Homo sapiens: one gene and its partners. The protein of the gene in region 2 purifies or fractionates together with the protein of the main gene of each other region. This does not show direct contact. Each region holds a gene or a part of one and is shown on either strand. Other genes may lie near its edges.

What was found.
Region 1: the proteins of ETFB (region 2) and PDIA5 fractionate together in Homo sapiens (co-fractionation; one large-scale study listed by BioGRID). This does not show direct contact.
Region 3: the proteins of ETFB (region 2) and ZMPSTE24 fractionate together in Homo sapiens (co-fractionation; one large-scale study listed by BioGRID). This does not show direct contact.

What each region holds. Positions count from the first base shown.
Region 1 is NC_000003.12:123,073,478-123,077,132, reverse strand, and holds part of PDIA5 (protein disulfide-isomerase A5 precursor), read right to left. Parts: intron 1-3,655.
Region 2 is NC_000019.10:51,359,744-51,363,398, forward strand, and holds part of ETFB (electron transfer flavoprotein subunit beta), read right to left. Parts: intron 1-3,655. UniProt on the Homo sapiens protein: Heterodimeric electron transfer flavoprotein that accepts electrons from several mitochondrial dehydrogenases, including acyl-CoA dehydrogenases, glutaryl-CoA and sarcosine dehydrogenase.
Region 3 is NC_000001.11:40,289,160-40,292,036, reverse strand, and holds part of ZMPSTE24 (CAAX prenyl protease 1 homolog), read right to left. Parts: intron 1,184-2,877; coding exon 1,040-1,183; intron 1-1,039. UniProt on the Homo sapiens protein: Transmembrane metalloprotease whose catalytic activity is critical for processing lamin A/LMNA on the inner nuclear membrane and clearing clogged translocons on the endoplasmic reticulum.

The DNA of each region.
Region 1 (3,655 bases), on a different chromosome or scaffold from region 2:
ATAAGGAAGACAGATTCCCAGAACCACACACATCTTACTGCCTGCTGCTGTAAATACAAGTCCAGCTGCATTTCTTATATTTTGCTTCCTTTAAAAAGCCACACCTTACATTTGGGGCTACGCAGCACAGTGTCTCCCCTTTTTATTCCCCATGGCACAAATGTTGCTGTCAACAATGGACAATTCAGGGGCAGGGCAACTTATCTGAGAGCTTATGAAAACAGGTTTTCTTATCCTGAAATTGCAACTGCAGTGCATTTAGCCAGGACTTAAGTCCCTAAAGCTTTTAATGTTTTGGAAAACCTCTTCTTGAGCCAAGAGGGGTCTGGATCACCGCCAGCTTGGTGTGCCAGGCCTGTTAACGAGGAAGAACTGGTAGAGGGAACATTGAATTAGGCAGCAGGGAGGGAGGAAGAGCAGGTGAATTCCCACTCCGGAAATCAACTCTGCCTCCAAGCTCCGTTAACTGATAAGAAAATAACAACTCAGTGTTCATGACCCACGGTGTACATCCATGCTTTTACACACATGATCTCATTTCATCCTCTGAAGCTGAGAGTCTAAGCCACTGTTTCCACCCTTCAGGTCTCAACCCAGGAGTCTAGTCATAAAATCAGTGAGTTACAGTAGCATTTTTAAAAAATTACATTGACTAGAAAACATCAGTGAGTAGCACAGGTAGCAACACTATGCATTCAGTGAGCCCAGTGTGTACTGGGTTACACTGTAAAATGTATAACTGTTCTTGCAGGAGTTGAAAAATTGTCATAAACAATGAGTGTTTATAGGCAGAGGTGGTACTATCCCCACTTTAGAGATGTGAAAACTGAGGCTCAGAGAAGGGATTTGCCTCGGATTAAGCCTAAAACAGTAGAGCCAGGTCCCCGCCAGGACAGATCTGATGCTTTTCTCTTGGGCTGTCAATGTGAATAGTTCCCACAGACATCCCTGGAGCATCATCCACTCCCCGTTGCTCCACCCAGAATAATACCCGAGAGGCTGGCAAGTCTGCTGTCCCTTCCAATCCAGCTATTGAGCGTGACCTGCTGAAAAGAGCTACAATGACAACCTGATCCATCTTCCCTCTGCTACCAGCATGTCCACAAACCCCCAAATCCCTTCAGAGAAAAGCACATGCTCAGGCCAAGTGACACCAAGCAGACAATGGTGACACAGCTCCAATGTGAGCAGAACTTGTGCTACACACTCAATTGAGAGCACCCACCTCGGCTGGCAAAATACCACCAGCCATATAAGATTAACTTGGAAATGTGTCTAGTTTTGTAGCTTTACCGCAGAGCTCGGTATTCTGGGAATACAGATTCCTGGGCTTTATTCTTGAAGAAAAACATCTCCAGGGGCTGGGAGCCCAGGAATCCATTTTACACATATCTCCTTAAGGTGAAGAAACTCCATCACTGACCCATCTTTTAAAAACTCTCTCTCTGGACCCCATATCACTCCCCTCTCCACTCACAGCCAGAATTTTCCATCTCCCCTGCTCCTCCCATTCTCCTCCCTCCTTCCATTGCTCATCCCTCTGAAATCTGCCCTCCCCACAACCACCACAAAAAAGGCTCTTGGTGAAGGCTCAACAATGACCTCCTATAGATAAACCCTACAGGCACTTCCAGTTCTCATCTTGTTTGGCCTCTTGAACTGGATGCGACACTTGGTTTCCCTCCTACCTCTCTAGCAATCATTCCTTTCTTCTTTGTAAACCCTCCTCTCCCCATTCTTTCAATGTTGAAGTTCCACAGCTCACTCAGTCTACCCTCTCTTCCTACCCTATATGGTCCCCCAGCCAACTTCACCCACTCTCCTGAACAGCACCCCTAAATTAACATCTCCAGATCAGACCTCTCTTCTAAGCAACACATCTTTACGTCCTGCTCACTCAGCAGTTGAACTGGAGTCAAGTACAGTTCTAAAATGTTAAAAGCCTAATTCTCATACAAATAGGTATTGAGCATATTTCAAAGTTTTACTTAACTCGCTAATAAGAGACCCTAAAAAAGAGGATATAATCCTGATATAAGATTGCTACATTAGATACCAACAGGTTAATGTCCTTCAGGGCAATAATCTTTGTGCTTCTCTTCTTTACCAAACAGAAATAATTTGCATCCTACTTAACTTTACAAAGTATGGCCCATAAAAAATAATAAACAGAGTTACATCCCCTAGAACACAGCTGGTCCTTAGGTGGTTTCTTATACAATACTCCAGTATGATACTAAAATGTCACAAAATCATCTTTTATTTCCAAGTGTTATATAATTTTTTTCCACTGTAGTCTACGAATTTGGATGGAGAAAAATGACATCTTTATCTTCACTAACCTCTAACTGAAATTTAGCCTTTCCTGTATTATGAATGTATTTATAAATGTATAAATGCTTTCTACATTTATGAATGTAGATAACAAATTACAGTAGTAATTAGGGTAGCAGTGTCTGTGACTTTGCCACCAACAGAAATCATATTTTCTTATCACATTACAAGATATCCTGAAACACTATTTATGCTCATCACAACTTAAAATTATAGAAGTTATCAAGCTTGTACCTTTGATCTTTTTATATGATGCATTAATAAACATAAATATTATTTTATCACAACCTTGTTGTTATATTTTGATAACTGTATTTCAATAAAACTGCTTTCTTTGTAATTCTATGCATTTTACTTTATACATTTAAAAACATTATTCTAAGAAAGACCCAGAGGTTCTCAGAGAAGGCTTTCCTGACTCCTTGAATTAGGTTAGGGATCCCTGTTATACATTCTCTTACCACATTATATTAACACTTTCTCTTTCCAGCACTTACTACCTGAATTAAATAATTAATCAGTGGCTGTCCCACTAGGCCATGAGAGAAAGAGATGGTGTCTGTCTTATTTATGGTTATCCCCAATGCCTTAGCATGAGGCCTGGCTCATAAAAGATTCTCAAGGAAATATCCATTTGGGAAAAAAAAGAAGTATCTGTTGAATGAATGAACATCTGTGGCACATGTAGGATGCTGATGTTGGTCCACCTTCCTTTGAAATAGGGGCATGTACTAATACTCTGCCCAGGACCCAGTAAGACTAGACCCTGTGATGAGAACAAACCCACTCGTTCCTCAAGACCCTTCCCTACTTGGCCCAAACAACAGAGCTTTCCTACCAGGCCCACATCTGGGCTCAGATACTGGATCACCTTTATGTTTAAGCCCCAGTTTACAACCCTCAACCTTGATTTTCATCAACATCTTCCAACAAGGATTAAAGGACCTGCTCACGACTTCCAGAAATCTGCCTGCGCCAAGGGGTTGGAGGAACTGTAGGATTCTTTGCAGGGAATGGACACTCCACCCTTGCGCCCCCGCAACTCTAGTGAGCTGGAAACTCTGAAGCCAGACACAGGCCCACCATCACACCATCTAGGAATGGAATGTGCATCAGACTGGGGCCTCAGTATGACTTTGAGGAATAAAGGCTCTTTTAACCCCACACTCCATGAGTGTCTTCAACCCCCCAATGTAAGATCACAAAGCTAATTATTTAGAAGTGGTTGCAAACTGGTATGTGGAAAGAGGCCCTGCTGATGTAGGGTGGCAATAGGGGACAGTGAACTGGAGCTCCTTGGGGGAAGGATACAGTCAGCATG
Region 2 (3,655 bases):
TAATGATGGCTCATGCCTGTAATCCCAGCACCTTAGGAGACTGAGGAAGGAGGATCACTGGAGCCCAGGATTTCAAGACCAGCCTGGGCAACATAGAGAGACTTCATCTCTACCAAAAAACAAAATTAGCAGGTCATGGTGGCGTGCACCTGTAGTCCCAGCTACTGAGGAGGCTGAGGTGGGAGGACGGCTTGAACCCAGGAGGGTCGAGGCTGCAGCGAGCTGTGACTGTACCACTCTAGCCTGGGTGACAGAGCTAGACCTTGTCTCAAAAAGAAAAAAAAAAAGTTTTATAATTGAGGTAAATCATTCAGCATTAAGTGCTGGCTTTCTCTTAAAGAGACGACATATCCACCAATATCAAAAACAGCCTCAAAGCTGGGCGTGGCGGCTCACACCTGTAATCCCAGCACTTTGTGGGGCTGAGGTGGGTGGATCACTTGTGGTCAGGAGTTCGAGACCAGCCTGGCCAACATGGTAAAACCCCATCTCTACTAAAAATACAAAAATTAGTCGAGCGTTTTAGCACATGCCTGTAATTCCAGCTAGTTGGGAGGCTGAGGGAGGAGAATCACTTGAACCCGGGAGGTGGAGGTTGCAGTGAGCAGGGATCACATCAATGCACTCCAGCCTGGGTGACAGACCAGATTCTATCTCAAAAAAAAAAAAAGAAAAGAAAAAAAAAATTTTTTTAAAAGCAGCACTGACCCATGCAGACAACGAGTCAAGGGTTTTATATGCATTAACTCGTTTGACCATCCTAGTAGCCTGTGAGGTTGGTTACTGCCATTACCTCTCATTTTACAGATGAGGCAACTGAGGCACAGAGAGGCCAAGTACCTTGGCCAGGGCCACTGAGCATGGAAGTGGCAGGACCACGGGTCTAACCCCAAATCTGTCTTGGGAACTGTGAGACTCTGAAAGAGGCTACGTGTGCCCACGGTGTTAGGAGAGCCAGTCTTCCTATTTGTTGTCCACTGCAGGCAAGAGGGATTTTCTTCTCTTCTCTTTTCTTTCTCTCTTTCTCTCTCTCTCTCTCTCTCTCTTTCTCTTTCTTTTTGATACAGAGTCTTGTTCTGTTGCCCAGGCTGGGGTGCAGTAGTATGATCTTGGCTCACTGCAAACTCCACCTTCTGGGTTCAAGCGATTCTCCTGCCTCAGCCTCCCCAGTAGCTGGGACTACAGGCGCCTGCCACCACGCCTGGCTAATTTTTTGTATTTTTAGTAGAGACAAGGTCTCACCGTGTTAGCCAGGATGGTCTCAATCTCCTAACCTTGTGATCCACCCGCCTCAGCCTCCCAAAGTGCTGAGATTACACGTGTGGGCCACCGCGCCCGGCCCACGCCTGGCTAATTTTTTTATTTTTAGTAGAGATGGGGTTTCGTCATGTTGGCCAGGCTGGTCTCGAACTCCTGACCTCAGGTGATCCGCCCACCTCGGCCTCCCAAAATGCTGGAATTACAGGTGTGAGCCACCACGCCCGGCCCAAGAGGGATTTTATAAAGTGATTTTCGACAGCTCTTCCTGAACCCCTGACACAGCTCAAGGACTTGTGTGGTTCTGTCCTCTAGGCTTTTCTGTCAAGCGAGTCCCTGGGCACGTGCTAGGGCACTCAGCAAGCAGGACAGCCAAGGCCAGGGAGCCACCCCAGTGACAGATCACTAACTCGGCGGGGGGCAGACAGAGAACTCGTCCCTGAGGTGACATGTGAGCCCCACGTGTGCCCTGTCAGACAAGGTGGCCTTGCTGAGAGCAGGAGGGGCAAGTGCGTGGAGCCCAAAGAGGAAAACCTGAAGAAACACCAGGCGCTCCCAGACGAGAGGGTGTGGCTGGTCGGGGTTGGGCCCCGAGATGGAAACACGTTTTCTGGGCCTGGAGTTTCTATCCTGTGGGGTCATCTCTAAGAAAATGAATCCCAGATAATGAATACAAAATTGCCCAGCCTCTCCTGGGTTTTTTTTTTTTTTTTTTTTTTTGTGAGACGGAGTCTCCCTCTGTCACCCAGGCTGGAGTGCAGTGGCACGATCTCGGTTCACTGCAACCTCCGCCTCCCTGGTTCAAGCGATTCTTCTGCCTCAGCCCCCCGAGTAGCTGGGACTACGGGCACGCGCCGCCATGCCCAGCTAATTTTTGTATTTTTAGTAGAGACAGAGTTTCACTCTGTTGGCTAGGATGGTCTTGAACTCCTGACCTCGTGATCCACCCACCTCAGCCTCCCAAAGTGTGTGTTTACAGGCGTGAGCCACCAGGCCCAGCCTTTCTCCTGGGGTCTTGAAAGAGGCCCTGAAGGTTAAGCTTCATCAGCTTCCTGTAAAATGTGCCCCTGAACAGGACAGGGTGTTACTGAGTTGCCAAATACCTATTAAAATGTTAGATACACGCACATACCCAGAAACATACACACAGCCGGACACACATACACACACACACACACACACACACACACACACACACACACACGAATACACTCTGAGCACAGCATTTGTTATGTTTTGAATAAATGACTAACTAAACATCCATTACTACTACTCCCAATAAAAACACTTATTGCAGCTGGTCACAGTGGCTCACACCTGTAATCCCAGCACGTTGGGAGGCTGAGGCGGGTGGATTACCTGAGGTCAGGAGGTCTAGACCAGCCTGGCTAACATAGCAAAACCTCGTTTCTACTAAAAATACAAAAATTAGCCAGGCGTGGTGGCTCACACGTGTAATCCCAGCTACTCAGGAGGCTGAGGCAGAGTTGCTTGAACCTGGGAAGTGGAGGTTCCAGTGAGCTGAGATCATGCCACTGCACTCCAGCCTGGGCAACAGAGATAGACTCCGTCTCAAAAAATAAAACAAAACAAACCACTGTGTGCCAGGCACTGTTCCAAGGGCTTATTTAATTTTCATTACAACTCAATAAAGTAGATAGTACCATCATCCCCATTGTACAGAGTAGAAAAATGAGGCTTAGAGTGGTGAAGCAATTTCCTCAAGGTCACACAGCAGGAAGTGGACGCAGGCGCTGGGCTTGGAGTCTGAGGTCTGCACTATTCTAGTAGTGAACCCACTGTCTCAGGAAGCAGTGACCACATCAAACTGTCTCCCCCACACCTGGAGCTCAAATTCCAGAAGGGGCGACAGACACCAGAGCAATCAATAAGTAAACAACACTGTGGATTACAAAGTGTCCACACCAGCTTCCCTCTGGGGACAAGCTGGGCTCTCAGAGGGTGCCCCTGCTCCCACCTCCTTCATGGAGAATGTGAGTCACTCCCTCCACTCAGTTAGGTTGGCTCCTTGAACTTTCATCTCTAGCAAACATACTTTCCTCTCCCTTTCTAGTTGCTAAGTATAGGGGAAAACACAGCAAAACACAGGGACCTGGGGCCTGTGATTTTAAGGAGGCAAGCAGGGAAGTCCTCCCAGAGAAGGTGATGTTTGAAAAGGAGGTGAAAGAGGTCAGGGAGTGAGCACGTGATTCTGGGAACAGAGGTGGATCAGACATGGCCCCTCTCTGCAGGGAGCTACCAGCCTGGGGATGATGGAGTAGGGCAGTGGGGAACATGGGGTAAACAGAGGATCCCAATCCAGTCTGGCGAGGGCTGATGGAAGCAAATCTAGGGACTGCAGAAGCCCCCAGGGATATACCAAGGCAACCTGAGGGTG
Region 3 (2,877 bases), on a different chromosome or scaffold from region 2:
AAACCCTGTCTCTAGTAAAAATACAAAAATTAGCTGGGCGTGGTGATGGGTGCCTGTAGTCCCAGCTATTCAGGAGGCTGAGGCAGGAGAATTGCTTGAACCCGGGAGGCGGAGGTTGCAGTGAGCCAAGATGACACCCCTGCACTCCAGCCTGGGAGACAGAGCGAGACTCCATCTTAAAAAAAAAAAAAAAAAAAGAGTTTTAAGATAATACATCTCAGTTCTCTGCCAAATTTATTTTTGTTTATGTGGACAATGCTATATGAATATGATCTATGCCCCTCCATTTTTCTTTCCTGGTGTCCCCACCATACATAATAGAAAAATATAATTCATTTAGCTCATCTTAACTCTACAATCTATCCCAAGAAAGAATTCTTCTGAATGGAGATACCTCAAGATCTTCAATATTATTTCTTAGCTTAATTTGGAAGCCTTACCAAACATCATGAAATGATGCCATTGTCAGGTTTGTTATATAGTCTCACATTAACCTATGTATTATCACTCACACGGAATACCCCTAATGAGCTAACACAGAGCAATGTTCTTAAGTTTCATTTACCACAAAATACCCGATTTTGATTTTGTGGGTTTGGGTGGATCCCTCAGGCTATATGGAGGCAGGTGGTCATGGAGCAGAGGAACAGTCACTAAGCCTCCCTTACTGAGCTGTACCAATTAGTGTTTGCTTTGTCCCCTCATACACATAAGATTTTTACCCAAGCACTGGTGAATATGTGGCCTAGGACACAACATTCCAATAGTTAATCTCCATCTACCGAGTCCTTTTAGGTGTTCACCACTGAAGTCTAGTTTTCTACTTATACTTTCCTAAGAGTATGCAAACGTTTATTTATTTGGGCTTGAATTTTTCTGCTACTTTGTCATACTGACCAGTGAATCAGGGGACTAAAAGACTTTGTTTCATCTATTTGTTAAAACTGTACTGTTCTATTTCCTTTTTCACTATCCTGAAAGCTCTAGATTTGAAGCAGGCAAGAGCATATGTGTGATAATTTTAAAGATCATACATTACCTCATTGTAAGGTGAAAAAATAAACTGGAAGATGATCAATAGTCCAATAAGAGTGGGTTGGCTATCATAAAAACCAAATGCAGCAAAAAGCTCCTTTCGACCAATTAATACAGCAAATAAAAAAAAACACAGGAAAGAATTCATCTAGAAAGAAGGACATGAAATTTCTAAGTTATTACCAAGCTGATTTCACTATGGGATCAGTAGCATCCATAAAGTATAAGAAATCACAGTGTGGCCGGGCGCGGTGGCTCACGCCTGTAATCCCAGCACTTTGGGAGGCCAAGGCGGGTGGATCACGAGGTCAGGAGATTGAGACCATCCTGGCTAACATGGTGAAACCCCGTCTCTACTAAAAATGCAGAAAAAATTAGCCGGACGTGGTGGCGGATGCCTGTAGTCCCAGCTACTCGGGAGGCTGAGGCAGGAGAATGGCGTGAACCCGGGAGGCGGAGCTTGCAGTGAGCTGAAATGGCGCCACTGCACTCCAGCCTGGGCAACAGAGTGAGACTCCATCTCAAAAAAAAAAAAAAAAAAAAAAAAAAAATTCATAGTGTGATTTTAAGAAAGGTATTAGTGTGATCACAGAACAAATTATTTAAGTAGCTTTTTTTGAGACAGATCTCACTCTGTCGCCCAGGGTGGAGCTCAGTGGCACGATCTCGGCTCACTGCAAGCTCCGCCTCCCATGTTCACGCCATTCCCCTGCCTCAGCCTCCCGAGTAGCTGGGACTACAGGCGCCCCCCACCATGCCCGGCTAATTTTTTGTATTTTTAGAAGAGACGGGGTTTCACTGTGTTAGCCAGGATGGTCTCAATCTCCTGACCTCAGATGATCCACCCACCTGGGCCTCCCAAAGTGCTGGGATTACAGGCATGAACCATACTGCCCCGCCAGTAGTTTTTAGTTTCACTTTTATTTCAAAAGTAAAATAAAATGTTCCCAAATGTATAAACTGTATCATTTTCTATAAGGGCAAGCTTAAGTTGAGGCTCCTATCATTGAGGGTTTGAAGTGGTCAATAGCAATGGGATATTTTCTCTCTGTAAAAGGGTGAAGGGCTAGAATGGATTCTGGCCTTGTTTTATAACACTGTAATCAGATACAACGCCTCCCACCTGACTTTGAAGCGGAGGCTCCAAAGAAACAGGCTTCCCTTGAATCCTCTCTAGGCCCACTGGAGCTGTACCAGATAGTTAGAAAGGTCAGGGGGAAAAGTAGATCCATCTTGATCAATAAATGAGAGGAGAAAAAAATAAAAAATCTATACCAAAATACAACCTCTTGGAGTAAGGTTGGAGAACACACAACATTCTTTTTCTGTGCAAATTAGGATCTTGGAGGCCACATGTACCTTATTTAAGTGTGTTGCTTCAAACCATTTGACCCAAACGAGATGACCCAAGAAGCTGTCAGCTTAGAATGGGGCTTAGAGCATAAGAAGGCTCACCAGCTGCCCCAGGACAAGCAGCTTCGACACTCATCCTTATAACTCAGTGGATCCAATATGACAAGCTCCAACAGAAAACTCAGTGAAGTCTCCTACACTTATAATCTATGCATCCACTTTTGTCAAGTAACCATTGTCCTTTTGAAAAATAACTTTTGGTTTGCTACTGGGCCCTACTACAGACTGAATTCCTGGCCATGGGATACTGTGATCCTGCAAACTGAACTATCCCTTCTGAACTGGGTGCTATGTTAATCTGTTAATCTGCCTAGCCAGGAAACTGCTATGCGCAGAAGCACTTCATCATCAAGGACAAGTGGTAGATATAAGAGTGGAAATGAAGCAAGTTATGAAGGCACCAGTAAGTTAAATAAGCAGATGGCTCAT